Homo sapiens: one gene and its partners. The protein of the gene in region 1 interacts with the protein of each later gene in a biochemical or structural test. Each region holds a gene or a part of one and is shown on either strand. Other genes may lie near its edges. The genes, in order: ACTA1, TMSB4X, DNASE1 and GSN.

Region 1 (7,207 bases):
CTGCCTGAGGGGACCCAGGGCCACCAGCGGAGGCCGCCCCGGCAGTGCTGGCAACACTCGGGAGCGCTGCGCAGAGGAAGAAAGCTGCCTCGCCACACCCCAGAGGGTCAAGTCAGGCCACCACTAGCTGCCAGTGATCTGGAATGGATCTGATCCACTGCAGAAACCGGCAGGGGAGCATGGGAAGATGTAAGTTTTGTCTTCCAAGGAGCCCATTCATTTGGGGTATCGTGAAAAGTGACTTAAGAGGATGTGGGGGATGGGAATCCCTCTTCCTGCTCCACTCCCGCCCCAAGCAAATAAACACGACCACTTTACGCAGCTTAACAGAATGACTTTAATGCTTCTTCAAGTTTTCCATTTTCTTCCACAGGGCTTTGTTTCGAAAAATAACAAAATGAGGTAATAAGTTAATGTATGTACACGTTATAAACACTGTGTCAGTTTACGATGGCAGCAACGGAAGTTGTTACAAAGAAAGTGACTGCGGGGTGGCTGGAGCTCAGCCGCCCCCCCATTGAGAAGATTCGTCGTCCTGAGAAGTCGCGTGCTGGAGGTGGAGTGTGTCTAGAAGCATTTGCGGTGGACGATGGAAGGGCCGGCCTCGTCGTACTCCTGCTTGGTGATCCACATCTGCTGGAAGGTGGACAGCGAGGCCAGGATGGAGCCGCCGATCCACACCGAGTATTTGCGCTCCGGCGGGGCGATGATCTGCAAGACAGCGCGTGAGGTGGGGAGACCTCACCCTGGAGCCCACCCCGCCGACAGCCCGCGCAGGCCACCACCCACCTTGATCTTCATGGTGCTGGGTGCCAGCGCGGTGATCTCTTTCTGCATGCGGTCAGCGATCCCAGGGTACATCGTGGTGCCCCCCGACATGACGTTGTTGGCATACAGGTCCTTCCTGATGTCGATGTCACACTTCATGATGCTGTTGTAGGTGGTCTCGTGAATGCCCGCCGACTCCATACCTGGGGACCGCGGCGGGGAGCGTGAGCAGAAGCTCGGGGCGCCGGGGGCCGGCGGGGCCTGGGGGCCGGGGCGAGGGCGAGCGGGGCTCACCGATGAAGGAGGGCTGGAAGAGCGTCTCCGGGCAGCGGAAGCGCTCGTTGCCGATGGTGATGACCTGCCCGTCTGGCAGCTCGTAGCTCTTTTCCAGGGAGGAGGAGGAGGCGGCCGTCGCCATCTCGTTCTCGAAGTCCAGGGCCACGTAGCACAGCTTCTCCTTGATGTCGCGCACGATCTCGCGCTCAGCTGCGGAGGGCAGAAGCAGGAGAGGAGCCCTCACTCAGGGGCCGCCGCCGGCCCTCCCGCCCGGGGTGCAGGGGCGCCGCGCACCTGTGGTCACGAAGGAGTAGCCACGCTCAGTGAGGATCTTCATCAGGTAGTCGGTGAGATCGCGGCCCGCCAGGTCCAGGCGCATGATGGCGTGCGGCAGCGCGTAGCCCTCATAAATGGGCACGTTGTGGGTGACGCCGTCGCCGGAGTCCAGCACGATGCCTGTGCGCGCGCGGGAGAGAGTGAGTGGCTGGGGGCGAGGCCGAGGCTAGGCTCTCAGCGCTAGCGGCGGGGGCGGGGGCGGGGGCGGGGGCGGGAGAGGGGACTGGGGGCAGCGGGCACTCACCGGTGGTCCTGCCGGAGGCGTAGAGGGACAGCACGGCCTGGATGGCCACGTACATGGCGGGCACGTTGAAGGTCTCAAACATGATCTGGGTCATCTTCTCGCGGTTGGCCTTGGGATTGAGGGGGGCCTCGGTGAGCAGGGTGGGGTGCTCCTCGGGAGCCACGCGAAGCTCGTTGTAGAAGGTGTGGTGCCAGATCTTCTCCATGTCATCCCAGTTGGTGATGATGCCGTGCTCGATAGGGTACTTCAGGGTCAGGATACCTCTCTTGCTCTGAGCCTCGTCGCCCACGTAGGAATCTTTCTGACCCATACCGACCATGACGCCCTGCAGAGCCGAGACACCACGCACCCGTTAACGCCGCTCCGGGTGGCACCAGGCTGGCTTACGCGGGGACCCCGAGCCGGCTCCCTCTGCGGAGGGGCAGCCTGACCTGGTGTCGGGGGCGGCCCACGATGGACGGGAACACGGCCCTAGGGGCGTCATCCCCGGCGAAGCCGGCTTTCACCAGGCCGGAGCCATTGTCGCACACGAGGGCGGTGGTCTCGTCTTCGTCGCACATTGTGTCTAGTTTCTGCAAGGACAGGGAGACCGCGAAGAGGCGCGGTGCATCAGCGCAGAAGTCTCAGCGGCAGGGGGGGGTAAGCCTGGCTGGCCCCGACGTCCTCCCTCCCCAGGAACCTAGGGACATCTCCTGCCGGAGCCACTCAAATTCTGCCAGGGCGGCGACCAGGGGTTCTCTTCTCGACCTTTGCCCCGGCTAAGGGCTGCCCTGAACCAGGAAAAGGGGCACAGGGTCGCGAGACCCCACTGAGAAGTCCTCTGTCCACATAGCCAGGGGAACATGTTCCCCAAGACCTGTCTGCCCTCCCTGCCTGACACCTGTTCCAGGAGCTGGACGCTAGTGCCCATCCTCTCTGCGCCTCCCTGACCACATCTGTCACCTAGGGAGATAAGGCCTCAGCACTGCCTGCTTGCTGGGCCAGCGTGAGGGTGGAAGGAGATGCCCATGGGAAAGGCGTTGGCACCCCATCCAGGGAAGAGTGGCCTGTTAGGAACCCTGTGACATTTCAAACTCAGAAAGGGCCTTTTCGCCTGTTGGAAACCCAGAATGGGTGGTCCTGGCTGCTCGCTCATTCGCTCTAGCGCTAGTTTGGAAGGGAACTGCCTTGGCGACAACTAAAGCAAAACCGTTTATCTCCCTAGGCACATCCTACATGCCAGGTAAAGGAGCCCAAAGGGGCTAGAGAAAAATTTGGAGAAGTCTAATTTCCAGAGGCTGACTGTCTTGCCTCCTTTTTAAAGCGCGTGTGGCTCCGGAGACGAGGCACAGCGCTCAGGGCGCAGGCCTGGGGCTGACCAGGTGAACCGACTGGGTTCTGCCCCGGAGTCCTTCAGGTTCCCCTCGGTAGTGCCCTGTCCCCCTGTCCCCTCCCAACTCCTGCCCTACCTGGGCGGGTAGCTACAACTGCTACTCTCGGCTCGGGCCCTGGTCGCCGCGGAGGGGAAGCGAGGCTTCACTTGGCGCTGTCCGCTGCGGTGGCCGCTTGTCCCTCTGCTCAGGTTTTATATAGCCCGCGGGCATTCCCTCCGCGCCACCCCGCAGGAATGTCGCTGCCCTTCTCGAGCCATATTTGGGTGTTGGGCACTAGAGCCCCCTCCCTCGGCCGGTTCGCGGCCTGGGCCCCCGCCCGGGTCCCCTGCGTTGACCAAAGAAGGAGCGGGTTGGCCCGGTCCCAGGTAACGCGGGCCGGGCCGTATATGGAGTGTCTCCCTAGCGGGTTTGCCCCTCCTGACCCGACCCAGTTGCCCGCCGGAGGGGATGGGGTGGGGCGAGGGTCACCGCGTTCGCCGGTGGGTGCATGTGTGCGCCTGCGCTCCGGGAACCGCACCTGTCCCAAAGGCCTCCCCAACCATGTCCACTCTGAGCGCCCTGGGCGCTCGGGAAGGTGCCTGACTGCTGACTTCCAATATTTCAACTCCTCTTCGGGTTCTTTGCTCAGATCCCCAAACTCCCACTTGCGACTACCGGGAAGAGGGAGTCGTGTGGAGTGGTGGGCTTGGGAGGATTGGAGAAGCAGTCACTCCTGAGTCTCAGGAAGGGAAGGAAGGCGAACTCCCTCTCCTTTACGCCCCTGGAACTCCATTTCTCTCTTCCCACCCCCGAGCTCCCTGAATCCAAAAAGCTGAGCCACGTCGACCCCTTCCCCCACCGCACAGAGGGCCACCGGCGGCCGGAGGGCGCGCAGCTGTCGCAGGATAGACAACTGGCGGGGGGAGGCGAGGGCGGAGCGCCGGGGAGGAGGCGCGGGGGCTCCCGGGGATAGGCCTGTCAGGCGCAAAGCCTGAGCACACGGAGCTGTCCGCCTCAGGGACGCGCAGCGCCCTTGGGTCTCCTAAAGGGATTGAAGGGGTGAGGGTTCCCCTCCTGTAGGACGCACTGGCCCCAGGTTTTGGTGGGCTGAGGCCCTCCCCCAGCCTCTTTGGTGGCACTATGTGTGTCCCTCTCCTGGGGCTGAAAGACAAGGGTCACAACCCAGGACTGGCTAGACCTGGAGTGGAGGTGGAGATGGGTGAGGGGCTCTTCCTAGATGAGGCTTAGCTGGTCCTTCCTCCCAATAAATTGGAGGGGGTGGGGGGACAAGGACGCGGCACTCTAGGATGGGTGGCAGTTTTTCCTTCTGCAAAGGCTGAACAAACTCATCTTTATATTTAGAGGATGATGCCTGCCAAGGCCGGGCTGCCTCCCAGTCCACCTTGTAGTCATCATTTACCAGAGCCTGCTGCAGGTTCTATTTATATCACTGATATATGGGGCTATGCCTTTCAGATTTTCTAGAAGGATTTGGAGCTACTTATGGTAAAGTAGAGTGGGGGTCAGCAGAGGTTACCCAGTTGGTGCCTGTCCCTCTCTCTCTCTCTCTCTCTCTCTCTCTCTCTCTCTCTCTCTCTCTCTCTCCTTTTTCCCTAAGACAAGGACAGTTCTAACCTTGTGGAGGGCACAGGAGGAGCAGTCTTCTGTGATGAACTCAGGGACATGCTTTAAGGGGGTACATCAGTGATGTGGTGTGGGCCAGAACAGAATCACTCATTTTTCGGATGTGCTTAAGTGCTCCTAAAATAGTTGCAATTCACTTTTGGTAGTGGAACCCAGCAACTGGGACAGGTGTGGATTCTCTAAAAGGGGGATGGAAGCATATGCGACCCTCCTCTGTAGCCCACATCATGGCAGTTCATCCCAAAAATAAACAAGTATTAACAAAAATGTTCTAGTGAATAAAATGCTACCTTCCTAAAAATGATCAATTAAAAAATAAGGAGTTTGACTAGTATAGGGACTATGCGGTGAGGATAAAGTCTCCTATGGTTCCATATTTAGTTCTTCCAAGTATTTTGGAGAGTAAGTGAATAATTGACAGAACTGTATTTCCTTTTTAACATCCTGTGTCCTCCTGTGTCAGCGAGTAGTGGAGATACTAGAAAAAAACCACTTAGCAAATGAGCTGCATGTAACGTAAGGGGACTAGCTTACATTTGGGCCTTGAAGGTAGGAAATTTGCTGCCGTTCACTGGATACCTCAATATTTGTGCGCATTCCAAAGGAGAATGGGATTGTCACTATTTTTCAAAACTCTTGCTCAGTTCAACTCTTACCTTTCCTTACAGAAAGCTTTTCTAAGCTCAGTCTGTTACATTCAAACCCACACTAAAAGCTGACCATGATTAAAAACACTCACAAGCGAACAGAGACCTGCTAGTACAGCAAACTGTGGGAGATGGCCCCTGAGGTGGCCAGCCAGGCATCTGTTCCCTGCCCACATGATTTGCGGCTGGTTTAAATAGTCCCTGACAGGTCACCACAGGCCACCCTCAGTCCCATTCTGGTCTTGTTGCATTCTCATTGGCTTAGAGAATAGACTGAATGGTGGGTGGCAGAGCCACGTCTCCATACATGTATGTTTTGGGGGAGCGCAGCGGCGCCCTGCTCCGCCTTTTGAGAACTGTCACTAAGTAAAGGTCAGCCATGTAGGGTATGCTTGACAGGGAGTTCCTGCTTCTAAGTTTTCAGGTGCAGCCTCAGCTCTTCATACCCTGACCGGGCCCTTCTGCTACCACTACCCCGGTGTGTTCACACTTCCCTTCTCTCCAATTGTGCCCCTCAACACTCCACACACCCGTACCCCAATCTTGCTCAGTTCCAGTCTTCCTACTGTGTTTCCTATCAATTTAAACAGGAATTGGTAAAACACTTTATAATATGCTTTCGTGTTTCAATTAACCGTTTAACTATCCTAAGGTAAATAAGATAGGTATTACTCATTCCAGTTTTTTTTCTTTTTTAAAGAAAACTGAGGCTTAATGAGCTAAAACACACCCCAGGTTCCACAGCAGCCAGTGGAGGAGACGGGCTTGGGCTGTCCTTCCTTCTACTGCCAGTGGCCAGGGAGGGCAAGGACTGCTGCTTCTCTCTAATCCTCACCAACACTGGGTACAGTTCGAAACAGAACAGGCCCTTGAGGGATCTTTCCCAGTAATGAGCCAAAGACATCCTGACATGAAAAGCCGTAGCTTCCCCAGAAACTCAGCTTTGAGGGGCTGGCTGGGCACTCCAAGTTAGAGATATTCCAGGAACAGGGTAGACAAAGACCAACTCATTCTCACAAGCTACTTAAAAACGTCGGGTCGGCCAGGCGCGGTGGCCCATGCCTGTAATCCCAGCACTTTGGGAAGCCGAGGCTGGTGGATCACTTGAGGTCAGGAGTTCAAGACCAGCCTGGCCAACATGGTGAAACCCCGTCTCTACTAAAAACACAAAAATTAGCCAGGCGTGGTGGTGCACACCTATAATCCCAGCTACTCGGGAGGCTGAGACAGGAGAATCACTTGAACCTGGGAGGCAGAGGTTGCAGTGAGCCGAGATCCCACCACTGCACGCCAGGCCTGGGCAACAGAGAGAGACTCCATCTCAAAAAAAAAAAAAAAAAAAAAGTTGAGTCAACTCCTGGCAGCCCAAAGAAAGGGCTTGGGCTTGGATTTTCTACTTTTTCCTCCTCCTGAAGCTGGTGGTTTTTGCACTCATGGCCACCTCTAAGAACCTGATGATTCATTGGAGCAGTGCCCTCTCTTCAACATTCTTTATACCCAGAATATCATGAACTGGTTAGGAGCTTGCATTCTGGAATCAAGCAGAGCTGCATTTACCTTCCCCTCTGACTGGCTATGTGATCTTGGACAAGTGACTTTCCAGAAAGCATTCTCAACTCACAATACTCCTTAAGACTGATCTGAGGATTAAAACCAGGTGAGAGCTGAGTGCGGTGGCTCACGTCTGTAATCCCAGCACTTTGGGAGGCCCAGGTGGACAGATCACTTGAGGTCAGGAGTTCAACACCAGCCTGGCCAACATGGTGAAACCTGGTCTCTACTAAAAATACAAAAAAATTAGCTGGGCATGGTGGCGGGTGCCTGTAATCCCAGCTACTAGGGAGGCTGAGGCAGGAGAATCTCTTGAACCCAAGAGACAGGCTGCAGTGAGCTGAGATTGCGCTACTGCACTCCAGCCTAGGAACAGAGCAAGACTCCGT
Region 2 (7,520 bases), on another chromosome or scaffold:
AAAAAAAAAGAAAAAAAGAGAAAAAACATCTACATGATGAAAAAGCTAGACAGCTGATTGAGACAGAATATAACTTTACCCTTATCTGGCGTATGGAACAAAGCCTTTAAAAGGCCTTAGGATTCTAGAGAAGAGTAGTGTTTAAATGAGGCGGCTTCTGAGCCAGCCAGTCTGAGTTCAAATCCTGCCTTTGGCTTTCGTTGTGTTTTCTTGGGGAAGTTATTTAATCCCTCTAGAATTCTCTCATCTGCAAAATGAGGAGAATAATGGTGCCACTGTCATAGGATTGTGTGAGGATTCGGGAAATACTACATGGAAAGCTTCCCAGTATATGGAAAGCACTCAGAAAGCACTTGCTGTTATTACTGCTATGGGTACAGCCATGATTGTTACTATCATTATTCTACAACCTGGCCCCTGCCTGGTTCCCAGCGTTATTTCCTGTCACTTTCTCTCATTTTACGCAAGTGCCTGCCAAGCTAAGCTACTCATTGCCCCCTGCGTTAACTCGAAGATTCTCTGCTTCCGTATTGTTCCCTGGCTGTGTGGAGGCTGAGTAACCACTTGGAGGGGATGTTGTAGAGGAAAATTCAAGCCACAGAAGGGAAACTGGGTTGAATGAGATCCCCTTTTACATTTCTTTTGGCTCTAAAGTTTCCATCGGATCAATAAAGCAAACAGGACAATTAGCAGCACGGCACTCAGCACTGAGCACAGGCGAGGGTGTTCTTTCACTCCTCTTTGCTTTCCTGCCACCCCCTGCTCGCCTTCCTCTTTGCACCATGTGGGTCCGCTCTGGGTGGGAGTCCTGGAGAAAGATACTTCAACTAAAGATAAGGCAGAGATAGGCCTCGGTGGAAAGACTTGGTAGACAGACCTGGGCATTTGATTAAGAGCAAATTGCTTAAATTCTCGGAGCCTCAATTTCTTTAGTAGTAAAATGGGGATATTAGTACTCACTCCATAGGGTAAGAATGGAATCAGATATTGTTTAAAAGGGCTTATAGCTGAGGTTACAAGATATAGCTAGTCTACTAAATATCCTTTCTCTTTTCATTTTCCTGTTATTCACAGGGGGGACTTAGGCTGTGTCTTTAAGGGGTTTTAGATTCCAATCAGTGGAAGGAGGGCTCTGCTGTGAGGGAGACCAGATGGAGACTGCAGGGGCCACAGGGGAACGTGGGGTGCAGGCAGGTGGGGCAGATGGTAGGAGGCCCTGAAACTCAGACAAAGGGATCTGGGCTTGAGAAAGCAAGAGCTGGGAGCTCAGCTTTGTTCCTGTTCTTCCGTTCCTCCCTCCTCTTCCTTCTTCTCTTCTTCTGGTAAGTTTTTGGCACAAAATTAAATAGGTTCAAACTAATAGAACTCATTTTCATGAATTCAGACTTCTAGCCAACTTCTCCATGGTTAGAAATAGCCACGACTCTATCCCAGGCCCGCCCTGGAAAGCAAAATAAAACTGCGTCCCCTGCCACCTTTTCCGGGTTCCACCAGACACAGGGTTGGAGGGGAACCGCCCTTCAACGCAGGCAATGTTGGCACATTTTTCATTGGGCGCTGTGGCCCGTGAGATGAGGAAGGCAGGACAGGCGCAAAGTGGACTCTACTTATCTTTCACCAGAGAGCCCCAAGGCCAGAGTGCACCATACAACCCGGAGTCACCCAAGGCCTTTTTTTTTGGGGGGGGGTCTCACTGGGAACAATGTCTGCACCCATTGTAAGCAGTTCCTTTGCCCCTGTGTGCCTCTGTCTTTTTAATTGGGATCGAAAACTGCTACCTCAATGGTAGTTGTGCCCGGCACATACTAACAGACTTATAAATGTAGCTGCCTGGGGCAGGGATGATCCTGGAACATTCTGACATCTAGAACATTAAGACTAAATGGATTTAATTATCTGGGGAGAAGAAAGCAAGACAATTAGAGTCACAGGTTCAACACCTGAGTTCAAGTACCTCCCTCATTTAAGAAAATCAATTCATGGAAGGCTGAGGCAGAGAATGGCTTGAATCCGGGAGGTGGAGGTTGCAGTGAGCCGAGATCACATCACTGCACTCCAGCCTGGGTGACAGAGCGAGACTGTCTCAAAAAAAGAAAAGAAAAGAAAATCAATTCAATGCAGTGGGAGAACTGTTATTGAGCAATTACTATCCACCAGACGCTGTGGAAAGCACAACTGCCTAGCTCCTCACACTCTTCCTGGTGATTCTCGGGTACAGACTAAGAGGATGTGGGGAGGACTTTTACATGCTCTTGGCATATATAACAGAGTGGCTACCAGCTGAGGTAACCCAATGATGGCTCTCTAAGCCTCAGTTTCCCCATCTGGAAATTTCTTATGGAAAGGCGGTGGGAAAGAAAGGAAAAAACAAATGTAAAACTTACGTTACAATGCCTGACTCTTAGAAAATATCAACCGACAGGAGTTGTCATGTTTTATTTGCTGTAAAACTACCAAAAGATCTTCTATCAACATTTTGTAAGTGAAAATAATAATATATATTCATATGTATTAATTATATAGAAATAATATATAATAATATATAAATGTCTCTATAGGAGAAATAATATCAAGACACCTAAAATTTTTAATTAATTCTAAACACTAAGACAATTATTTTATTATTTTTCCTCAACCTTCCATCCTAAATCATACGAATAATAACAATAGAAAGAGCTTACTAATTGTCATGCACTGTCCGAAGCATTTACTCCTCCCAACAACCCTGTGAGGTCGGTGTTGCAATGAACCCATTTTACAGATGAGAAAACTCCAGCACAGAAAGATTCATTCACATGGCCAGAGTCATGCAACTTTTAAGAATATTCCTTTGGTTTGCATTTCCTTGTATCTGCACCACCCTTCCCTTTCCTGTCTCTCTAGGTCTCCTGACCGGTTGGCAGGTCAGTCCCAATCATGGGAACTCTTTTCCTTTAAGCAGTCGTCTCTCTTTCTCTTCCTCTCTGTTTCCACCTGCCCTCCATCAGTGTCTCAGCACAGTGGAAGGCTGCTTGCTACCGCACTGGAAAACTTCTCCAGACATTTCCAAGTTTGCATTCGTCCATCTCCTTTGGAGAATTGCTTCAGTGAGGCCTAACCCTTTCTGAGGAAAGGCCCTTGGGAGAAGAAGCCAGGAGAAGGTAGTGGCACTCCTTTGTCATCAGGAGACATTGGGAGGAAAGAAATGATTTTCGACAGCAGCTGGGTGAGGGGAAACAGAATCACAGAACCTGCGGAAACGGTGTCGGTACAACGGCAGCTGCCAGCTAAACGGGCGAAAAGGCACCCTGCAAGATCTTTTCTGTGTTTCAACGATGAAGTAGACTCCCAACATGGAACAGGGGCGGGGGGGCTGTTACCAGACAGGTGACATTTGGTGCATGCACGAACAGGTCCAGTGCCCCATTCGGAGGCCAGGAAGGCAGCCACCCAGCAGAGCATTAACTAGGGGACCAGACGGTCACCTGCCCCTGCTCACCCCCACCTCCTTCCTCCCCAGGAAAAAGGAAGTCAAGTAGATGGAGAAACGGGGAAGTCCAAGCTGCTGGCAGTGGCATTCAAGGGTCTATATATAAGGTTGACTCTAATCCCCAGCGAGACAAAAGCCTGTGCCATAAAAATGATTAGCAAGGGGTTTCTAAAAACATTTCCCCAGGCCACGGAAAAGGAGAAGGAATATTTTGCACACTGCCTTGTCTCTTAGAAATAATCACAGCTAGGCCTCTTTATAACCGGCGAGTCTTTTTCCTTTCACACGCCATTTGCAGGCGCGTGGCATGGTATTTGTAACTAATTTTCAGTAGCAAGTGGGTCACTGGTATTCACAGAGTCAGGTGCCATTTTGAAAACTGCTTCCCTCTACCCGAATCTCTTATATTTCCAGATGCAGATGCACTTCAGCGATGTCCTAGTGCTGGAAACGCTCCCTTGAAAATATAATTTGATTTTTGAATTTCATCTTAAGACATTAGAGATAATGTAACTGTAGTCTTTGGAATTCAACGCTGGCCTCCTTAGCCATCACTTTTAAAATTTATGAAAATAAGGAAGAGGAAGGTAAAGAACTTCCTCATTGTCCGGCAGTAAAGTCAATGGCAGAGCTTGAGCTTGACTTATTTTGCTAAGAGGGAGGTGTTTTACCCTATAAACTCCAAATTACCTTACACCCAGCAAATACTACTGTTGAGTGCTCACAAAAATTATGCTGATGAAACAATATGGATGTTTCAGTGATGAAACTTTCTCTTTTAAAATCACTTAAGGGTGCTTTACGTCCCACCCAAGGCAAGAGGAACGCCAGCGAGGAAGACAAAGAGGCCCGGGGTGGGGCGCATGCCCGCCACTGGACTGAAAGCTGAGTCACAGGAATCGTACCCCTGCAGCGGGCCAGGCCCTCCAGGGAGGGACACCGCGCCCTTGTGTGGAGATGTCCACAGTAGACAAAGGCAGTTTCGAAATAAAAGAATGCCTGTCACCCCAGGTGCCACCCCGACCCTTAGTTATTATGCACTGGTCCCCAAGAGCAATTTCTGCGCTGCTGTTGCAAAAATTCATCGTAATGAAATAAACGTAAAAGGGGAAAATGTGTTATGAAGTGTTGGAGGGTGCTTTGCTCATTTTTTTCGCCATCGTTGTGGTTAGGGTGCATGCACTAGTGGACCCCGGGTGGGGGTGGGGCTCCCCTCCCCAAAAGCCCGGCAGGCCTCCGGATGCCGTTCCGAGACGCGGCGCGAAGGAGTTAAGCGGGCCGGCGGGTGACATCACCTCATTTACATAGGAGCGCCCATAAAGCTGCGCCCGCCGCACCCCGCCCGACAACTCGGTGGTGGCCACTGCGCAGACCAGACTTCGCTCGTACTCGTGCGCCTCGCTTCGGTGAGCCCCAGGGCCCCTGCCTCCTTCCTCCTGCCGTCCTGCCTCCGTCCCCGCCCTTTCATCATCCGCGTCCCTGTGAAGGCATTCCCTAAATCCGAGCCCGAGTGGTTCTCCCCGGGAAGGCTACTTTGGGGAGCTGGGGGGATGCGAAACACCCTAGATACTGGATAATGGGGTGGGGAAATCGATGATTTAAGAACAAAACCGAAAAACTGGCGTTTTGCCGTGCCGCTCGGAGGGGACATTAAAAAATTTCTTAGTGTTTGCCCGCAAAGGTATTGTGCGTTGCCTTGGAGGCTGAGATATGGGGGAATAGACAAGTCCTTTGTTCTGAGGTTCATCTTCCGAGCCCCGAGCCTCCTCCCAGCCTCGGACGGCTGCGCGGGCTGCATCTGTGCAGCCTGGCGGCGGCGGGGCTGTGCTATGACATCTTTACAGTCCTTCTTGCAGAGACATGTGTGCCAGGGATGCCGAATTGCCGGGAGAGCAGGCAAGACCGGCTTCGGGGCGCGCGGCGGCCGCTTTGTGTGCGGGGCTGCATTGTGACGCGGGCGATGAAGCCGGTAGGGCGGTGGTCGGAAGCTCCAGCCGCGGCCGCCGCCTTTGTGAGAGGACTAGAAAGCCGGATCCGGCCCGCATCCTTGCGGAGAGGCCGCGGCTAGGAAATGGAAACGCTTTTCCTACCTGGGCTCCATTTTAGGAATTCTTGCCGATTTTTCCCACTTGAATTTGGAAGTGGCTTTCCTCTTCTTTCCTTGTCCTAGCCAGCCTTTAATTTTAAACGCTGTAATTAACAATTCGCAGTGGTCAATTTCCTTTATTCTGCAAGATTCGGCTTTGAGAGGCATCCGCCCTCTTTGGTCCACAGCGTTTTGAAATATGGGGAGGAGGGGCGCGGGGGGTGTCGCCTCTTTTTCTGTAGAAAGAGGAAGCTCGTGAGCGCGGAACGGCAGCAGTAGGAGAGCGAGAAGGGTTTTTTTCAGGCTGCGGGTCGGAGGGCAGAAGTGCAGTTCCCAGCCCAGAGACAGCGGGGCGGGTGGCTCTTCCTCACGCTCGCTCTTGGCTTGCTCCCTGCAGCTTTTCCTCCGCAACCATGTCTGACAAACCCGATATGGCTGAGATCGAGAAATTCGATAAGTCGAAACTGAAGAAGACAGAGACGCAAGAGAAAAATCCACTGCCTTCCAAAGAAAGTGAGCTCCGACCCACCCCCATCTTTAGAAAGGCTGGGTGGGAGCGGCCGGTGGGAGGGCGGGAGGCTGGGAGCGGCCGCGGGAAGAATTCGGGAGGGGGGAGTGCGGGGGAAGAGCCGACAGTTGATGAATGTGGCTTGCAAAGGTTAATTAAAAATGGTTTTGCAGCCAACAAACACGGGGCTTTAGTAATTTAGTAATGGAATATTTAATATGCCATATTAATATACAAACATTTATCCATTAAAATGTATTTCTATTTAGTATATTCAATATACATATTTTATTCCATTGTGGAATACCGTGTAGAATGTTTATGATTTGAAAAGATGCTTTAAATGAAAGCCCTTTAGTCTGTACTGAATCCTTTAATCATCTCCCTCCATCTTTTTTTTTTTTTTTTTTCTGGTCACAGCGATTGAACAGGAGAAGCAAGCAGGCGAATCGTAATGAGGCGTGCGCCGCCAATATGCACTGTACATTCCACAAGCATTGCCTTCTTATTTTACTTCTTTTAGCTGTTTAACTTTGTAAGATGCAAAGAGGTTGGATCAAGTTTAAATGACTGTGCTGCCCCTTTCACATCAAAGAACTACTGACAACGAAGGCCGCGCCTGCCTTTCCCATCTGTCTATCTATCTGGCTGGCAGGGAAGGAAAGAACTTGCATGTTGGTGAAGGAAGAAGTGGGGTGGAAGAAGTGGGGTGGGACGACAGTGAAATCTAGAGTAAAACCAAGCTGGCCCAAGGTGTCCTGCAGGCTGTAATGCAGTTTAATCAGAGTGCCATTTTTTTTTTTGTTCAAATGATTTTAATTATTGGAATGCACAATTTTTTTAATATGCAAATAAAAAGTTTAAAAACTTAGCTGGTGTGTCTGTTTGGTTTCTGGAAGGATCGCGGATGAAACCTTTGCAAAGAGGCCTACCTCTTGGTCCATTGGGGAGGGACAAGCATCTGGTGACTGGATAAATTCCCTTATGGCATAGAAATGGGTTTCACCCAGGTATGCAAAATACCTTGTCTATACTAGGAGATCATTTTCTCAGGCTGATTGAATTCCTAGTATGAATTGTGTGAGAGCTTTAATAAAAATATCTTTGCAGTTCTTACGGGTTTTGATAAGCTGACATTGCACGTGCTCAAGAAAATGAAGGTGATAATTTACAGCACAGTATCTTATTTCAGGGTATCAAATTGAACTTGGTTATTTAACCAAGTGCTAGCATTAACATAGATGAGTAAAAATTACATTTTTAGCAGCTGCGTTAAGAAGGAATTTAGGACTTGAGCTTACTCATTTTCTAATGGCCGGTTTCTAATCAGAGTTCAATATTTACAATTGCTTTAATGAATACAGTTAAGATTAGTGAACATGATTTTAAATTTATTGGGTCCTCTTCATTTGAATAATCTTTGGATTTAAAAGATACTTATTCGATCTTTTGGGTTT
Region 3 (8,173 bases), on another chromosome or scaffold:
ATTAAGGTTCAATAATTATTTTAATAGTAAGCCAAAAGAAATCCCTGATAGTGGTGCCGGAGGAGACAGGTTGTGTTTTTATCTTGTGGCCTGGGTAGTGTCCTGGGACCCTCTGCCCCATCTGAGTCAAGTGTTGTGGGATAAAGGAATCTCTCAGGGCGAGGAGCTTCTTAAGTTAAATCGGTAGAAATTTAGGCATGACATGGGCCTTCAAATGTGTGAGGAGCTGTATCATTTTATTTCTCGGTGTGTTTTCCCCAACTTCTAGTTGATAAAAAAAAAATTCTTAAAGAGTTTTCGTATGTGGGAGCTAAGGTGGTCTTGTAAAATTTCAAGTCATCCTTAAATAAAATGACCCGCCTGAGAACTTGCTCCCGCTAAGTGGCGAAATCAACTGGAGTTGGTTCCTACAAGTTTTGTTTATTCTAGTTTTGTTTGTAAGTAGGTTGTGTGAGTTAATTCATGGATATTTACTATATGTCTTTTAAATTAGAAAACATTTGTTATTATGTATGTCCTTTTAGATTTTACCTGCAGCTCATACTTTGAAATCATCACCCAGTAGTGTCTTACTCTAGCATCGTCTAAATCTGAGCATCATCTGGTGGAATCTTAAATTTCAGTAGAAACCACGAGTTATTAATACATCTTCCACTCAAGTATCAATTTCAGAAGGAAACGTAAATGAATATTCTAAATAAGGCTAATTTGTATTAATCTGCCTTTATGTTTGAGGGAAAAAAAGCTGAGACATTGCATGAAAGATGATGCAGGATATACGCTGATCTTTTGGCCCCAATGAGCTATTTGAACATTGTCCTGTTTATTGTTAGTTTTCTTCATCATTTATTATATGGTCAATTTTTGAATTCCTGTAATATGAAACCTTATTCTATCTTTTAACTTACTGTTACCTAAAGTTAGTAAGTCCAGATTATATGGTCATTCAAAAAAAAAAAAAAAAAGAAAAGAAAAAGAAATCCCCCACAGTTCCATTTATTAAATAAGTAAACCCCAATAATAAGCATTTGTGTCCTGGCAACTTATAGTGGATGTCTAGAAAAGTAATACATAAAGAGAAATGTTCATGTTATTTGTTTAGTCATGGGATGTGTGTGCCTGTCGAGCACCTCTTCAACTTGGAATCTGGTAGAACACCGCCACCCTCATTGCCTCATTTTTCCACGTCGACCTTCACAGTAATTGCTTGTTCAGTGACTGCCACAACCCAGCCTGGCAGAGAGAGGGAAGATACCCTATAAAGCAAGGTAACGTTAATGTTGAGACCATGAATGGCCTTGAGCAGAGCAGAGTATCATTGCTTCCTTCAAAATTCAGAAGGATCTGATGGTGCTCTGTGAGTTCATGGGGGTGCCTCCGTGCAGGTTGGAAACCACAGCTGTGCGTCCTTCCCGCTTTCCCTCTTGATCAGTAGAAGGGTACCCTCCCTGGCCTGCACGTCGCTGGGTCACACAACACTGGCTGTCGTTGCACAAAGCCACGGCCACCAGCGTTCCTTTGAGGCCATTTGTTTCCAGCCATGGTGCCTATAGGATTTTTCCTTTATCCTGTAATTTCAGCCAAATCAGAGCATGTGACCTGGCTTAGATGTCAATATAATTGTTGTTATGTGCTCTTTTCCCTTCCTGTGTCTGTGACAGGTTTAATTTAACCTGAGAAGGCTGCAGATCCTCGGGGTTGGTGTAAAAACACCTCATCCTGATCTGAGAAGGCGGTCAGCTTTTCTCCTCGTTGCCGTTGGCTGCCAGCACCCATTCTCTGTGGATGTGAAAATCCCAGAAGGGCTGGGCTTCCTTCTTGGGCATTCCCCAGGCCTATCTCCAGAGTGGGGCCCAGCATGGGAGGATTGTACCCCACTCACTCCCCTGATGTGGGGCTTGGACCTACAGCTCGACAGCACCCATGGAATGTGGGCAGAAGCGACAGCAGCCAGCTCCGCCTTGGCCTTAGGGCGGCACGTGTTCTGCTTGTGCCCTGGGAGCCTCCACCTTCCACACTGTGGGAAGAGGGTGCCCAGGGAGCTGCAGTCTCTCCAGCCCAGCCCCAGGACGAGGCCCAGGCAGCAGAGCCACCCCAGCAGACCTGGCAGTGTGAGAGAAATGCATGTGTATACACTGAGTTTGCAGGTGGCTGTTACATGGCAGCATTGACTGACACAGACAGAAAAGAGATCCACGAGGGAGAAGTGAGAGTGCTGGAGACTCCACAAGCCACAGGCTGCAGGGGCAGGATGGCTTCTTAGAAGGTGAAATGATTGTTCTGGGAATCTATCAGAGGAAGACATAGAGGCTCCAGACGGTTGAAGGCCCAACAGTGATCCCAGACGGGCCCCATGTCAGACCAGGCTCCTCCAGGGCTGTGCTGCCCTCACCAAAGCCCGTCCTGAGGGCAGCCACACAGCAGGCAGCACTCGCCATTTGTACAAGCGAGGCCCAAGTTCCAGCCTTCCTTCTGGCAGGTAGAGGAAGCAGGGGCACTATGCCTGGGAGTTCCTGAAAGCAGATGGGGCAGCATTTGGTCAAGAGCCAGGAGGGGATGACAGACCAGAGGGGAACCCTCGTCCCACGTGCTGAGCACACGTAGGGGGTTGGGCACTTGCTCTGTGAGCTATAATTGGTGTCCCTGTGCCCCGCCGGAAGCTGCACCAGGCAGTTTCTTGGTGGAGGACAGTGGCCGCCCTCTAGCTTTACTCCCTTCCCCGTGATGGGTCGCTGTCAGATGTGTGTCCAGGAAAGGCAAACACCAAAGGCAGAGGACTAGTCCCTACACCGAATACTCCGGTGGCCTTGCTTGGGGGCTGGGTTTTGACGTGCTGGAGGCTGTCCTAGACTTAGAGATTAAAAACAGGGAAGAACCATTGCTGAAACCTTTGGAAAAGCCTGCAATGGGGCCTCTGGCAGCCTGAGGAGTGGTGGTGTTTCCATCTGGTAGACGCCGTCTCAATAGGAGGGACAGATGAGTGCACCAGTGCTGCCAGCCAGAGGCGTCTGTTGGCGTGTCTTTATGGAATGGGGTGCCAGTCTTGTGGAGGGTGGTTTACCTTCCTGTTTCTAGTCCCCACTGGGCCTGCCTTCTGCTTCATGGCCAGCTGGCCAGACCGAGCACTTTCCTGACTTTCGACCTTGGCCCCTGCTGACTCTTGCCGTTGAGGCCTCCTGCAGACCCCATTTGTATTCATTTCCTGCAGTTCTCATACCTGAATCCCGCCTGGACTTCTGCCAAGCCTTCCAGGCCCTCCTCCCCCAGGGGGACCACAGATGCTACGTGCAGGGCTGTCCTTGGAGGGCCAGCACAGCCCCTTCCAAGTGGGCAAGACCCAGGGGTGGCTCAAAAGATAGCTGTGCCCTAGCCCTGGAACCTCTGAATGTTGATTTTTGTAGCAAAAAAGGACTTGCAGATGTGAGTAAAGGCTGTTGAGATAAGGACATCCTCCCTGCTCTCTGGGAGGACCCCAAATGCAGGTGCACAGATCTTAAGAAGAAGAGGCAGAGACTGGGGTGATGCAGCCACAACTAAGGAAAGCCAAGGATTGCTGGCAGCCTGCAGAAACTGGAGGGCAAGGAGCATCCCCCAACCGCCCGGAGCCTCCAGGAGGCGCAAGGTCCTACTGACTCCCTGACTTCAGACGTCCAGTCTCCGGAATTTTGAGAGGATCCATTTCTGTTATTTTAAGCAACCAAACTTGTGGTAGTTTCACCAGTCTCAGGAAATGAATACGAATGGAAAGTCAAAGATTCCAAGAAATGAGTGGCGGGGTGCGGTGGCTCACACTTGTAATCCCAGCATTTGCGGGAAGATTGCTTGGGCTCAGGACTTGGAGACCTTGTGTCTGTGAGAAACTTAAAAAATAGGCTGGGTGCGATGGCTCACGCCTGTAATCCCAGCACTTTGGGAGGCCGAGGCAGGCGGATCACAAGGTCACGAGTTTGAGACCAGTGTGACCAACATGGTGAAACCCTGTCTCTACTAAAAATACAAAAATTAGCCGGGTGTGGTGGTGCGTGCCTGTAATCCCAGCTACTCGGGAGGCTGAGGCAGAAGAATTGCTTGAACCCAGGAAGCAGAGGTTGCAGTGAGCCGAGATAGTATTACTGCACTCCAGGCTGGGCAGCAGAGCAAGATTCCGCCTCAAAAAAAAAAAAAAAAAAAAAAAAAAAAAAAAAAACTGAGCATGGTAGCATGCACCTGTGGTCCTGGCTACGCCGGAGGATTGCCTGAAGCCAGGAGTTCAAGACCAGTCTGGACAAAAGAGCAAGACCCCATCTCTACCAAAAAAATTTAAAAATTAGCCAGGCATGGTGCCGTACCCATAGTCTTAGCTACTCAGGAGGCTGAGGAGGGAGGATTATCTGAGCCCTGGCGGTTGAGGCTATAATGAGCCATGATTGTGCCACTGCACTCCAGCCTTGGCAACACAGTGTGAGACCCTGTCTCAAAAACAATAAAAACCCAAAACAAAAGAACCAAGAAATTACTGGACCTGAGGCCTGGCCTTTAGCTGCTGCCCTGCCCTTGTGACCTGGTCACTCGGGATCCCCTGGGCCTAAACACACAGCCTATTGTCTACCTCAAGAAGGCTCCCCACTGCTTGGCTGGCAATTGGGGTGGGCTTTGCAGGCCCCACCTGTCCTGGCCCCACGGCGCTGGTGCTGCAGGCCCCCACCACTGCTTGTTCCGAGCTCCCCAGCCTCCTGCAGAGTTGCCTGCACCTGATGGCGATGAATCAGGAAGGCAGGCGTGTCCTGGGCCACAGAGCAGTCATGGCTGTCAGCCACCAGGGGGCTCCATTTGCAACTTTGGATGTGGCTTTGGCCTCTTTGTCCAAAGTGACCTTGGGGCCCCCAGACAAGAGACAGGGAGACTGGAGCCCAGCCCCACCCTCCCGCACATACCTGGCCCATCCCTGCCCTATCCTGGAAGATGGGGGCCACCACACGTGCAAGGGACACGGGATAGGAACCTTTGGCCTTGTTATCAGACATTTTAAAACTAAGTGCAAACGTGATTATCAGGTGCAGTTTTTACAGCAGCAAGAAACCTGTGCTTACAGAAAGAAACACGTGCTAGCAACCCACCTATGCGGAAAGCCACACAGAGCCATTGTTTTCTGCACTCTCAGGTGACGGCTCACATTTGCCCCAGGGAAGGTCACAGCTGCCTGAACTTTTAAAACTCCCAGACACGCACTGCCTGTGCAGGATCCGGAGCCCAGCAGCACTGCCAGGGCCTTGAAGTGCTTCTTCAGAGACCTTTCTTCATAGACTACTTTTTTTTCTTTAAGCAGCAAAAGGAGAAAATTGTCATCAAAGGATATTCCAGATTCTTGACAGCATTCTCGTCATCTCTGAGGACATCACCATCATCTCAGGTGAGCACCAGGTGGAGTGCCTCTGGGTGACTGGCCGGTTTGGAGCAGGGAGGGAGGCTTAGAGTCTCATCCTCCAGCAGCGAGTGAGGCGGAGGCTCCAGCGTCCCTCCCGGGCGGGTTTTCTGGTGGATGGAGGAGTGACTCGGGGTCCTCTACGTGGTGCCAGCTGTTTGGCTTTCTGGACGTTGTAGGAAAGGGTTTCCCCCGCCTGCGTCCCCCTGACCTTGAGCTCCACCAGCCCCTGCCAGCTGGGCTCCAGAAGGCTGGAGTGCTGTGGCAGGGATGACGTCTCACTTCTGTTATGTCTCTGTGCCCTGTGCTCTCCCAGGATGAGGGGCATGAAGCTGCTGGGGGCGCTGCTGGCACTGGCGGCCCTACTGCAGGGGGCCGTGTCCCTGAAGATCGCAGCCTTCAACATCCAGACATTTGGGGAGACCAAGATGTCCAATGCCACCCTCGTCAGCTACATTGTGCAGGTGAGGCCAGGGCAGCCTCCCCCCAAAAGCAGAGGAGCTCTGGAGTCTAGGGCTGGTGGGCAGGGCCAGCCCTATGGAGCCACAGGGTGTCGGGTGTGGGGTACTGAGCACCACTGCTCCCAGCACGGTGGAACAGGCTCTTGGCTGTGGACCAAGGTCCTCATCCCTGCTGTGCTGTCCCTGGCTGGCAGCAGGAGCCCAGGCAGAAACATGAGGCTGCGGTTAAACCGAGCAATGCCACGAGCATCAGCTGTGGCTCCCTTTGTGGCGCTGTAGGGTCCCTGGGTGGCACCAGCCCTGCTCAGCACCACTGTGGCCCTGCCCCCAGATCCTGAGCCGCTATGACATCGCCCTGGTCCAGGAGGTCAGAGACAGCCACCTGACTGCCGTGGGGAAGCTGCTGGACAACCTCAATCAGTGGGTGACAGTGGCAGGGTCATAGGAAGGTGACATCTCGTCCACGGCACAGCCTCACTTCACTTGGGCCCCAAGGGTGGGGACCTGGGCACAGCCTCGCTATCGGCAGCCAGAGGGGTCCCCTATGGCCCCCGCCACTGGGACCTTTTGTTTCTTCAATCCAGGGATGCACCAGACACCTATCACTACGTGGTCAGTGAGCCACTGGGACGGAACAGCTATAAGGAGCGCTACCTGTTCGTGTACAGGTGGGTGGTCTAGAAAGCCAGGAAGCCCCTCCCTCACCTGGGAGGGCCCCAACAGAGCAGGGAAGTAGTTTGTCCTATTAGTTTGTCCTATGGCAAGAACCTGAGGCTTCAGAGCAGGGTCCAGGGTGGAGTGAAAACACCCCAAGGTCCCGGACCAATGGGTTGAGCAGGTGCCTGGCTCCCCCGCCCTCCTGTCGCCTGGGTCCCGGACCAATGGGTTGAGCAGGTGCCTGGCTCCCCCGCCCTCCTGTCGCCTGGGTCCCGGACCAATGGGTTGAGCAGGTGCCTGGCTCCCCCGCCCTCCTGTCGCCTGGGTCCCGGACCAATGGGTTGAGCAGGTGCCTGGCTCCCCCGCCCTCCTGTCGCCTGGGACGCGACGCCTGCCTCCTGGGAAGCAGGAGTGGGGCAGCTTCCAGCCTGGGGTCACCTCCTCCTGCCCGGCCTTCCCGCAGGCCTGACCAGGTGTCTGCGGTGGACAGCTACTACTACGATGATGGCTGCGAGCCCTGCGGGAACGACACCTTCAACCGAGAGCCAGCCATTGTCAGGTTCTTCTCCCGGTTCACAGGTGGGTGCTGCCTGGGCCAGGGTGGGGCTCGGCTTGGCGCTTATGGCCTCCACCCCCTCCTAGGGAACCTGGAATGCCTGTGTCACACACTGCCCTCCCAGTCCCTGGGGCTTGGGTTTTCCATTCAAGTCATTTGGAAAATATCCACCCCCCGGGGGGACTGTCATGATACATAGTTCCAGCTGACATGGTGACTGAACCTGCCCCCAGGGAGTGTGCCTCACACGACGTGGCTGTCTCCACAGAGGTCAGGGAGTTTGCCATTGTTCCCCTGCATGCGGCCCCGGGGGACGCAGTAGCCGAGATCGACGCTCTCTATGACGTCTACCTGGATGTCCAAGAGAAATGGGGCTTGGAGGTGAGGCCCTCCCAGGGGCAGTGGGCACCAGCGGCCTCCGCATGTCCCAGGGCCACAGGCAGCGTTTCCTGGTAGGACGTCATGTTGATGGGCGACTTCAATGCGGGCTGCAGCTATGTGAGACCCTCCCAGTGGTCATCCATCCGCCTGTGGACAAGCCCCACCTTCCAGTGGCTGATCCCCGACAGCGCTGACACCACAGCTACACCCACGCACTGTGCCTATGACAGGTGAGCAGGGCCTCGCGCTTAGGGCAGACTGAGGGCACCTCCAAGGGCAGCCGTGACTCATAGGTCGGGCTTCAGAAGCCTCAAAGCCTTTGAACACTCACCCAACTGAGCTTCAGTTGATCCACTACAGGGAACAGAATAACAAGAGCCACGATTTTTAGGTTTTTTCGGAAAAGCACATCTGGGGATAAGAGGAGAGGCAGACACCTAGGCTGTCATGTGGTTTCCACATTGAGGGGCACAGACCAGGGTGTGCAGTTTTGGGCACCCACAGACCTGCACTGGCAGGTCCCAGGGCTCTTAGTTTAGTTCCTGCGGGTGCTGAGCCAGGCCCATGTGTGAAAGGGGAACCTACTTTCTCTTCCCAACACCCATCAGGATCGTGGTTGCAGGGATGCTGCTCCGAGGCGCCGTTGTTCCCGACTCGGCTCTTCCCTTTAACTTCCAGGCTGCCTATGGCCTGAGTGACCAACTGGTATGTGTCCTC
Region 4 (7,547 bases), on another chromosome or scaffold:
CTTTGGTAGGCTGAGGCAGGTGGATCACCTGAGGTCGGGAGTTCGAGACCAGCCTGACCAATATGGAGAAACCCCGTCTCTACTAAAAATACAAAATTAGCCGGGCGTTGTTGCGGGTGCCTGTAATCCCAGCTACTAGGAGGCTGAAGCAGCAGAATCGCTTGAACCTGGGAGGTGGAGGTTGCGGTGAACCGAGATTGCGCCATTGCACTCCAGCCTAGGAACGAGAGGGAAACTCCATCTCAAAAAAAAAAAAAAAAAAAAATCAGGTCTCATGAGAACTCACCATCATGAGAACGGCATGGGGGAAACTGCCCCCATGATCCAATCACCTCCCTTCCACCAGATTCCTTCCTTGACACATGGGGATTATGGGGATTACAATTCGAGATGAGATTTGGGTGGGAACACAGAGCCAGACCATATCAATTTATAATTTACTTAATTATAAGTTTATATAGATTGTTATTGAAGGCTGTGCTTAATACAGCCTTAATACAGCTGGGTGTAAGAATGCATGGAAATTTGGCCAGGTGTGATGGCTTACTCCTATAATCCCAGCACTTTCAAAGGCTGAGGTGGGAGGATCTCTTGAGCCCAAAAGTTTAAGACCAGTCTGGTAACATAGAGAGACTTCATCTCTACAAATAACATAAAAATTAGCCAGGCCTGGTGGGATGTACCTGTGGTCCCACCTACTTGGGAGGCTAAGGCAGGAGGATTGCTTGAGCCCAGAGGTCAAGGCTGCAGGAAGCCATGTTTGTGCCACTGACTCCAGCCTGGGTGACAGTGAAATCTTGTCTCAAAAAAATCCACAAAAATTCATGGAAATTGAGCAATCAGTTCGTAAGAAAACAACACTAAACACACTAAATCAGTTCTTAAGAACACAACACTAGCACAACACTAAAGGGGACCGAGGCTGGAGAAAATAACAGTCTCCTTTCCTTCTTCCAGCTCTGTCTTTCTCTGACCTCCACACCTTTGCTTATTCTGTGCTCTTAGCAGAAGATGCTGTTCCCTTCCTCACCTCCACTCTTATTCTTTCCATCCTTTCAAGGCTGACTGAATCCAAGCCGTTGTCTCTGCTTGGCTTCCCCTCCCCTTTTCTCTGGGAAGTGCACCCCCTCCACCCACAGGTTACAGTGGGAGCAGCCAGGTTTGTGCAGTAGGACCCTGTCACTCGGGCCAGAGTTAATTAGATAAAGGGTAGGCATCTGATCCAACTTAGAATGTGGACTACAAACAAAGATTCCAGCTTGCTGCTGGTAAAAGCCATTTTCTGGAAAGCAGAAATGCTTGTGTGATGTGAGCAGACAGGCAGAGATGAAAGATGGGGGAGAGAGTACTTTCTGGGTTCCCTTTAGTACTCAGGTCCTGCTTGTGGTCTGATCCTGAGGCCCAGCTGCACCCCTGCCCTAGTGTTCCATGGGATATTTCAGGATCTCCTGAGAGTGCTCTCTCAAGTAATCCCTTGTATGAAATCCCTGTCTCATCCTCTGCTTCTAGGGACAAACTACAAGGCATTCGATGCTCAACAAATACTTGTGCTGATAACTTCTCTTTCTGAAGCCAGCTCCAGGAGAGGTCTGTAATCAGAAGAGCCCCTGAACCCTGAAGCCTCCTGGGCTGCCCAGCCCAGGCATCTCCTCTGTGAGTTTTGCGACACCCTTCTAGTCATTTAACGAGCCTCATTGGCTTTCTCTGTGAATACGATGGAAGATGGCCACCTCAAAATGGCAGCCTTGGCCTTCAGAGATCATTGGTCCTCACAGACCCAGTTAATTAACCATGATTGTCATGTCTCAACTTCCAGCTCCAAATTCTAATAGTCCAGCTTTTTTCTGCCGTCCACTCCTCATGCTGTCAACTGTGTTGTGGGGGAAGGTTACAGTACAAACCTGGGTGCAAGTGAGGGCCATCCCCTTGGGTGGGAAGAGGCGTTCTCAGAGGAGAGAGCAGGTACCCCCAGATTGTCTAATGCCTGGCCTGTGTGTGGCCTTCATTTCTCCCCAGCCTCACTCTGGGAAGGAGGTGGTCTTCTGGCAAAAGAAGATATCAAAGTTCTTCCATCAGAGGAGATCCTTATCAGCAAGACATTCACTCTGAGGTGAGGATCCAGGACAAACAGGCCTTACCTTACCTAGATCCAATGGGGGGAGAAGTACAAAGAGGTATCTAGAAAGGAATGAAGACAGGATACCAAGAAGACTTCTAGGCATCCATGAAAGGCAGACTTGATATATCCTGCCAGCTATAAAATACACATGTTGAGTCATAAAGCAAAGCACCAGGAGATTTCTAGAAGTGTTCCTAGAGGAGCACTCCCATGTAAGTATTGGTTATCATCATCACAATCATCATCAATCAATCATCATCATCATTATCTTCATTATCATTTCTAATGATTCCTGGTGATACCCTGTTCCCATGTTCCTCTCCAGCCACCAAATGGAGCAATTACAGGGTTATGGGTAGGCATCTGACCCAGCTTAGAATATGGAACCTTAGATCTAGCTTAGAATGTGAACCCTTTTGCTCTCCTGGCCTCAGTTTCTCCATCTCTAAAGGGAGGAGTTGGAGCAGACATTCTCCAATGTTTCCTCCATCGTGATGTGGTATTCTCCAGTTCTATGGGGACACAGATTCAGAGTTCCACCTCCCTTTGTCTGAGAGCAGTTGCTGGGGCTGGAAATGATATGTTAGATAATTCCAAGGCATGTGTATGCCGGGGCTTGTAATCAAAGATTCCAGAGCCAAATAAGCCTGTGTTTTTGCTTTTCTCCCCAGCAGCCTTGCATTGGGCCCCAGGCAGCCTCTGGAGAAAGCAGAGAGTAGCAGAGATGGTGTGAGCCTCCCTGCGGGGTGGATACCTTGCTTGTATTCTCAGAGAAAGTGGAACTGGGCAGAATTTCCCAAGCCAGGAAAGGTGGCAGAGTGTGACATAAGACATTGAGCAAAGAAGCGAGGGCCAAGGACTCAGGCATAGAAGAGTAGACTGCACAGTATCAGTAGTGTGACCTCCAGAGAGTACTTAACCCTTTCTGTGGGCTTGGCCTGCTCATCTGAAAAATACACATGGTAATGCCTCCCTTAGGAGGCCAGGTAGGGAGGTGAGAATTAAAGTCGGTAATACGTGGGAAGCCCAGAGCATGGCATGAGGCATTCAAGAAATGGTTCTTGTATTTACTGGTGTTGAACAAAGAGAGAATGGCAGGAGGAAGAGCCAGGGTGAGATTCCCTGGGTCCTGTGGCTTCCCTGGCTGCTATTCAATGGAAAAACCAGGGAGTGAGCACTGTGCTCTTGGCTTCTGTGCTACTTAAACAACAGCCTTTTCTGCTCTGATCCCCAGCACCCGGCAATTACTGACTCTAGTACATTTTACCTTGTGTTAAGAGGGAGCTTTACCCTGGCTGAACATGGGGCTGCTGCCAGCACCCAGGCTGGGAATGGACATCTCTGTCATGTGGTGCAGTCTCCTGTGGAGTGTGTGAATCCTTCCAAACCGGAGTCACGCGGCAACTCCAAAAGTCCTGGGAACTCATGTGTGCACCAGGACTGCTGGGAGGCCGTCTTATGCCTTGCTGCATTATAAACGGCTATCGTCTCAAATGCATATGAGATGTTGTTGAAATCAACAAAGTATTACATTTGCTTAAAATTGACCTTGCACTCATCTTTCTACCCAATGTGGATTTCCTCAATCTCCTAAAACAGTATCTGCCATGACACTAATAAGAACATCCCTTCCGTTTATGCAGAAGCCACGGTCCCTGTCATTGTGCTGAGAGTCTTTTTCTCACTGAGTCTTCTCAACCGCCCCATGAAGCGGCAATTCAGGATGCCCATTTGACAAACGAGGAAACGGAGACTTAGACATGTGAGCTCGCTTGCCCAAAGTTACAGGACTAGTCGATGTCTGGGGTTCCAAACCAGGCCTTCTGACTCCGAGGCGCCTGCTTAATGGTCCACTTTAAGGACCAGGGATGCACTTGGCATTTTCGTTACTTCATTCGGAATGAGCTGGGAATCGCTCTTCCTCCTTATTCCCTTCCGTGGGAGGGAATCTCCCCTGCTTTGCATGCAGCCTATGTCACTCTTCGAGGGCTTTGCCTCCTGAAGTCCGTTCTCTCCAGGGCTGAAATCTGCCTCCGCTGGTGCTAGTTGAGCATTGCTCGCTTGCCCGTCCCATCTGAGCTCTTTGGCCCCAGCCCAGCTCAGGAGCTGCCCTGGGTCTCCTCCCCGACCCTAGGCCTCTTCAGATCTCCCCTCCGTGCTCCGGGCCTCAGTTTCCTCCAGGGGAAAGCAGAGGGCTTGGTTTGGTGCCTTCCTGCGAGGTGAAGCGAGGGGTCCCCCTGGACGAAGGCGAGCTTGGAGCCACCCGCCCAGCAGCCGACGGGAGGGCCTGGCGCTCCTCCCCCACCCGCCTGCCCGGCCGCCCCGCCCCGAGGGCGGCTCCCGCCCGCGCCCTGCCCACCCCGGCCGCGCGCACCACAACGCCCCCGCCCCGCCGCCCGGAACCAGCTGAGCGCAGCTGGACCCAGCAGCCGCTGTCTCCAGTGCCGCAGCAGCAGGTAGGGGAGGCGCGCGGCCCCGGCCCCGGGCATCTGGGGGTCCCGGGCTGATTTGAGTCCTTCCTCTCCCTTCCTTCCCGGTCCTATCTCGCCCGCGCCTGGAGCTCGGCCCGGCCGCGGGGGCATCGCTGGAAAAGGGCTTCCTCGCTCACTTTTCCCGTCTTCCAAGGGACCAAAGAGTGTGGATGGGAGTTGGGGGATGGGGAGACGCCGGAGCAGGAGAGGAGAGGGGCCAGGCCTCCACCCCGTGATTCCACTGTGCTGCTAGCACCTGAGCTAATAACCTCGACCCCGCCCCCGGGATGGGGGAACTGGCCCGGGGTCACCCCTGCACTTGGGTTGTCTGACCCGGGCATGCAGGGGACCACCAGCTACGGTCTGGGCGGTGACTCTGCTGGGGAGTCCACTCAGAGGACCCTTGCCTCCTGGACGATACCTGTGCCTGCTCTCCTCTCCAGCTGCTTCCTCTTTCTGGGGACTGTTAGAAAGTTCTTCCTTACACTGTCTGAAATCTTCAGGCGCCTGCTACCTGTAGGTGCTGGCTTCTCCCCGGCCCTGCAGTGTTCCCTTCCCTGACTCACACGGAAGCTTCTTCTGGAGTTGAAGACAGTGATTGGAACCCCTTCTCCCTGAGCCCCCATGTCTTCTGGGGTCCAGCCCCCCAGAACCTAAATAACAGCAACTTCCCTCTGGTCCAGTGCAGGCTGGCTGGTCTGGGCAGTGCCCAGGGGGAAGCCCCAGTCCTTGGAAGGCTGGGGGCTGGGGGTGTGGGTGAGCAGGAGACATTGGCTTTCTTCCTAGCTCCTTGTCTGCCCAGACATCTGTCGCTTTATCCTGTCTTCACACCCTCCTCAGAGCATGGAAGGGAGCTTTAAAACACCCAGAACTCATTCTGGGCTGTCCTGAGGGTAATTGGACTTTGTGGAAGGCGGGGCCTCTGGGGAGGTGCCTTTCGCTTTTGTTTGGCATCTGGGGACTTTTCAAACACTTAATCCTGTGTGTCCTGTTCTCCCAGGACCACATTTCTGACCAGGGCACCAGGACCTCTCACCGCTCTGCCGTTTACAGCGACCATAGCTTGCTAGAATCTTACCCCATCTCCATTTCCTCCATTTCACAGTTGAGAAAAGTCAAGGACCCAGAGAGTTTATGATGGGCTAATTGTCACACAGTGAGGCAGGGTAGGGCTGAGACCCAATTCCGGTCTGCCGTTTGCGGACTCCTTGCTGGGAGGGACTCTAGCCTCCTTCTTGGGTGTTCCGTTTACTAAAGGGACAAGCATTCCCTGTACATACACACTTGGGGGTGCTGGTTGGTGTTTCTTGGGGCTGTTAAGGGGGAGAGGCTTGGAAACAGAGGAGGAAGGATGGGGGTGGGAACGGTCGGCTTTCAGCTCCTTTGAAACTCCATTTTTCTTTCTGGGGCCATGCTATTTATAAATGCCAGGGAAATTGTAAACAGCCAGGGGAGCTTGGGTTGGCACTCGGTGAGTTACACAGCAGCAAAGAAGGTTTCTGTGTGAATCAGGGGAGGAAAGTTTACTCCAGAATTTTCCACAGTCCTTTTATTAGGGACTAACATGAGCCTGGAAACAGGCTGCTCCCAGGAGGGGTGGCTGCAGGGTTTGCCCCGCATGGCATTTCCTTCCTCCCCGCCTCCCTCCTTTCAGCACTTCTCTGGGCCTGTGTTCTGTGCCTTGCCCTGCGAGGGGCCAAAGAGCCTTGGAAGAGGACAGAGCTCTCTGTCCTCAAGATGCTTGCCATCTATACTGTTTGACACTTTTGTGCCATATTAAGAGTGACTTCAGCCTGCAAGAGGAGTGACTAATTTTGTCTAGGTGAGCCAGACCTCAGAATGAATAATCATTTACCAGGAGAAACAGGAGTTGGGGGAAAAGACATTCTGGGAAGCAGGAACCACTAGTGCAAAGGCACTGAGATTTTCTGAGCCATCCATGTGGCTAGAGTGGAGGATGGGAGAAGGGCGGGGTGGTGGGAGGTTGAGAATCTAAATGAAAATGGAACTAGATTATAAGCTAAGGGTTTGGACCTCATCCTGAAGGCAATGAAGAGCTGAGAAAGGGTTTTGACAGAGCAGTGATTTTTAAAAACTCGTTATTCTGAATGGCTGATGTAGGGGATGCATTGAACGAGGCTGATCTGGAGGCAGGAAGGCCCTGAGGAGGCTGTTGCATGATTCAAGTGAAGTAGATTGCAGGTCTGAACTAGAGCAGTGGCCACTGGGATGGGTCAGAGCAGCAGATTCTGGAAGCCCAGCTGAAGGTCTCAGAACCTGCTATAAATTTCATCTAAAAGCAGACAACAGGCTAGACCTACTGGAGAAGGTTGCTAAGGTATTCAGCATTGTAACTTTTTTTTCTTTTTCATGAGTTTTAAAACAAACAAAAATTGTTAAAGAATCCCTCCAAGCCCGCCTCTTTCCCCAGAGGTCGCCACTGTTAACAATGGTGTGTGCACTCCTGCCAAACACGTTGATTGGATGCCTTCACTTTTAGCCATCCAGTGACAGTGGGTCACTTTCCCCTACTCCATGTGAATAGTTTGGGTCATTTGTGATGTGGGTCATAGAGATGATTTCTGCTTGGTCTATGGTACGTTGCTGAGACACTGAGCTCTGGTTTTCTTTAAGAAAACTTTTACATCCTGTGTCTGCGGCCTCTGGGTGTGTATATTTGCTTATCAGAGACCACAGGTGTGAGAGAAGTTAGAAGCACTGACTTGGAAATGGACCCCCAGTCTTGGTTCTTTGGGTGACCTTGGGCAAATCCTATCTCTCTGAGCCTCTGGTTCCTCATGTGTAAAATGGAGAGATGTTGGTTTGCATGATAATAATAAAAAGCTATCTTTTAACTGGGCATGGTGGCTCACACCTGCAGTTCCAGCATTTTGGGAGGCCGAGTTGGGTTGATGGCTTAAGCCAGGAGTTTGAGACCAGCCTGGTCAACATGGTGA

What was found.
Region 2: the proteins of ACTA1 (region 1) and TMSB4X form a complex in vitro, tested with the Homo sapiens proteins (2 studies listed by BioGRID).
Region 3: the proteins of ACTA1 (region 1) and DNASE1 are reported together in a solved structure, tested with the Homo sapiens proteins (one study listed by BioGRID).
Region 4: the proteins of ACTA1 (region 1) and GSN are reported together in a solved structure, tested with the Homo sapiens proteins (3 studies listed by BioGRID and IntAct).

Annotation. Positions count from the first base shown.
Region 1 is NC_000001.11:229,430,932-229,438,138, forward strand, and holds ACTA1 (actin, alpha skeletal muscle), read right to left. Parts: upstream 3,164-7,207; 5' UTR 3,073-3,163; intron 2,197-3,072; 5' UTR 2,185-2,196; coding exon 2,056-2,184; intron 1,950-2,055; coding exon 1,625-1,949; intron 1,501-1,624; coding exon 1,339-1,500; intron 1,255-1,338; coding exon 1,063-1,254; intron 972-1,062; coding exon 790-971; intron 712-789; coding exon 568-711; 3' UTR 314-567; downstream 1-313. UniProt on the Homo sapiens protein: Actins are highly conserved proteins that are involved in various types of cell motility and are ubiquitously expressed in all eukaryotic cells.
Region 2 is NC_000023.11:12,970,294-12,977,813, forward strand, and holds TMSB4X (thymosin beta-4), read left to right. Parts: upstream 1-4,816; 5' UTR 4,817-4,875; intron 4,876-5,952; 5' UTR 5,953-5,968; coding exon 5,969-6,068; intron 6,069-6,483; coding exon 6,484-6,518; 3' UTR 6,519-6,930; downstream 6,931-7,520.
Region 3 is NC_000016.10:3,649,656-3,657,828, forward strand, and holds the start of DNASE1 (deoxyribonuclease-1 isoform 1 precursor), read left to right. Parts: upstream 1-5,035; 5' UTR 5,036-5,098; coding exon of another isoform or gene 5,099-5,140; 5' UTR 5,141-5,305; coding exon of another isoform or gene 5,306-5,389; exon of another isoform or gene 5,390-5,717; coding exon of another isoform or gene 5,718-5,718; coding exon 5,719-5,865; exon of another isoform or gene 5,866-6,193; coding exon 6,194-6,282; exon of another isoform or gene 6,283-6,446; coding exon 6,447-6,530; exon of another isoform or gene 6,531-6,982; coding exon 6,983-7,098; exon of another isoform or gene 7,099-7,274; coding exon of another isoform or gene 7,275-7,343; coding exon 7,344-7,456; exon of another isoform or gene 7,457-7,531; coding exon 7,532-7,686; exon of another isoform or gene 7,687-7,867; intron 7,868-8,041; exon of another isoform or gene 8,042-8,064; coding exon 8,065-8,161; coding exon of another isoform or gene 8,162-8,173. UniProt on the Homo sapiens protein: Serum endocuclease secreted into body fluids by a wide variety of exocrine and endocrine organs. Expressed by non-hematopoietic tissues and preferentially cleaves protein-free DNA. Among other functions, seems to be involved in cell death by apoptosis.
Region 4 is NC_000009.12:121,263,645-121,271,191, forward strand, and holds the start of GSN (gelsolin), read left to right. Parts: upstream 1-4,517; 5' UTR 4,518-4,575; intron 4,576-6,280; exon of another isoform or gene 6,281-6,412; intron 6,413-7,547. UniProt on the Homo sapiens protein: Calcium-regulated, actin-modulating protein that binds to the plus (or barbed) ends of actin monomers or filaments, preventing monomer exchange (end-blocking or capping).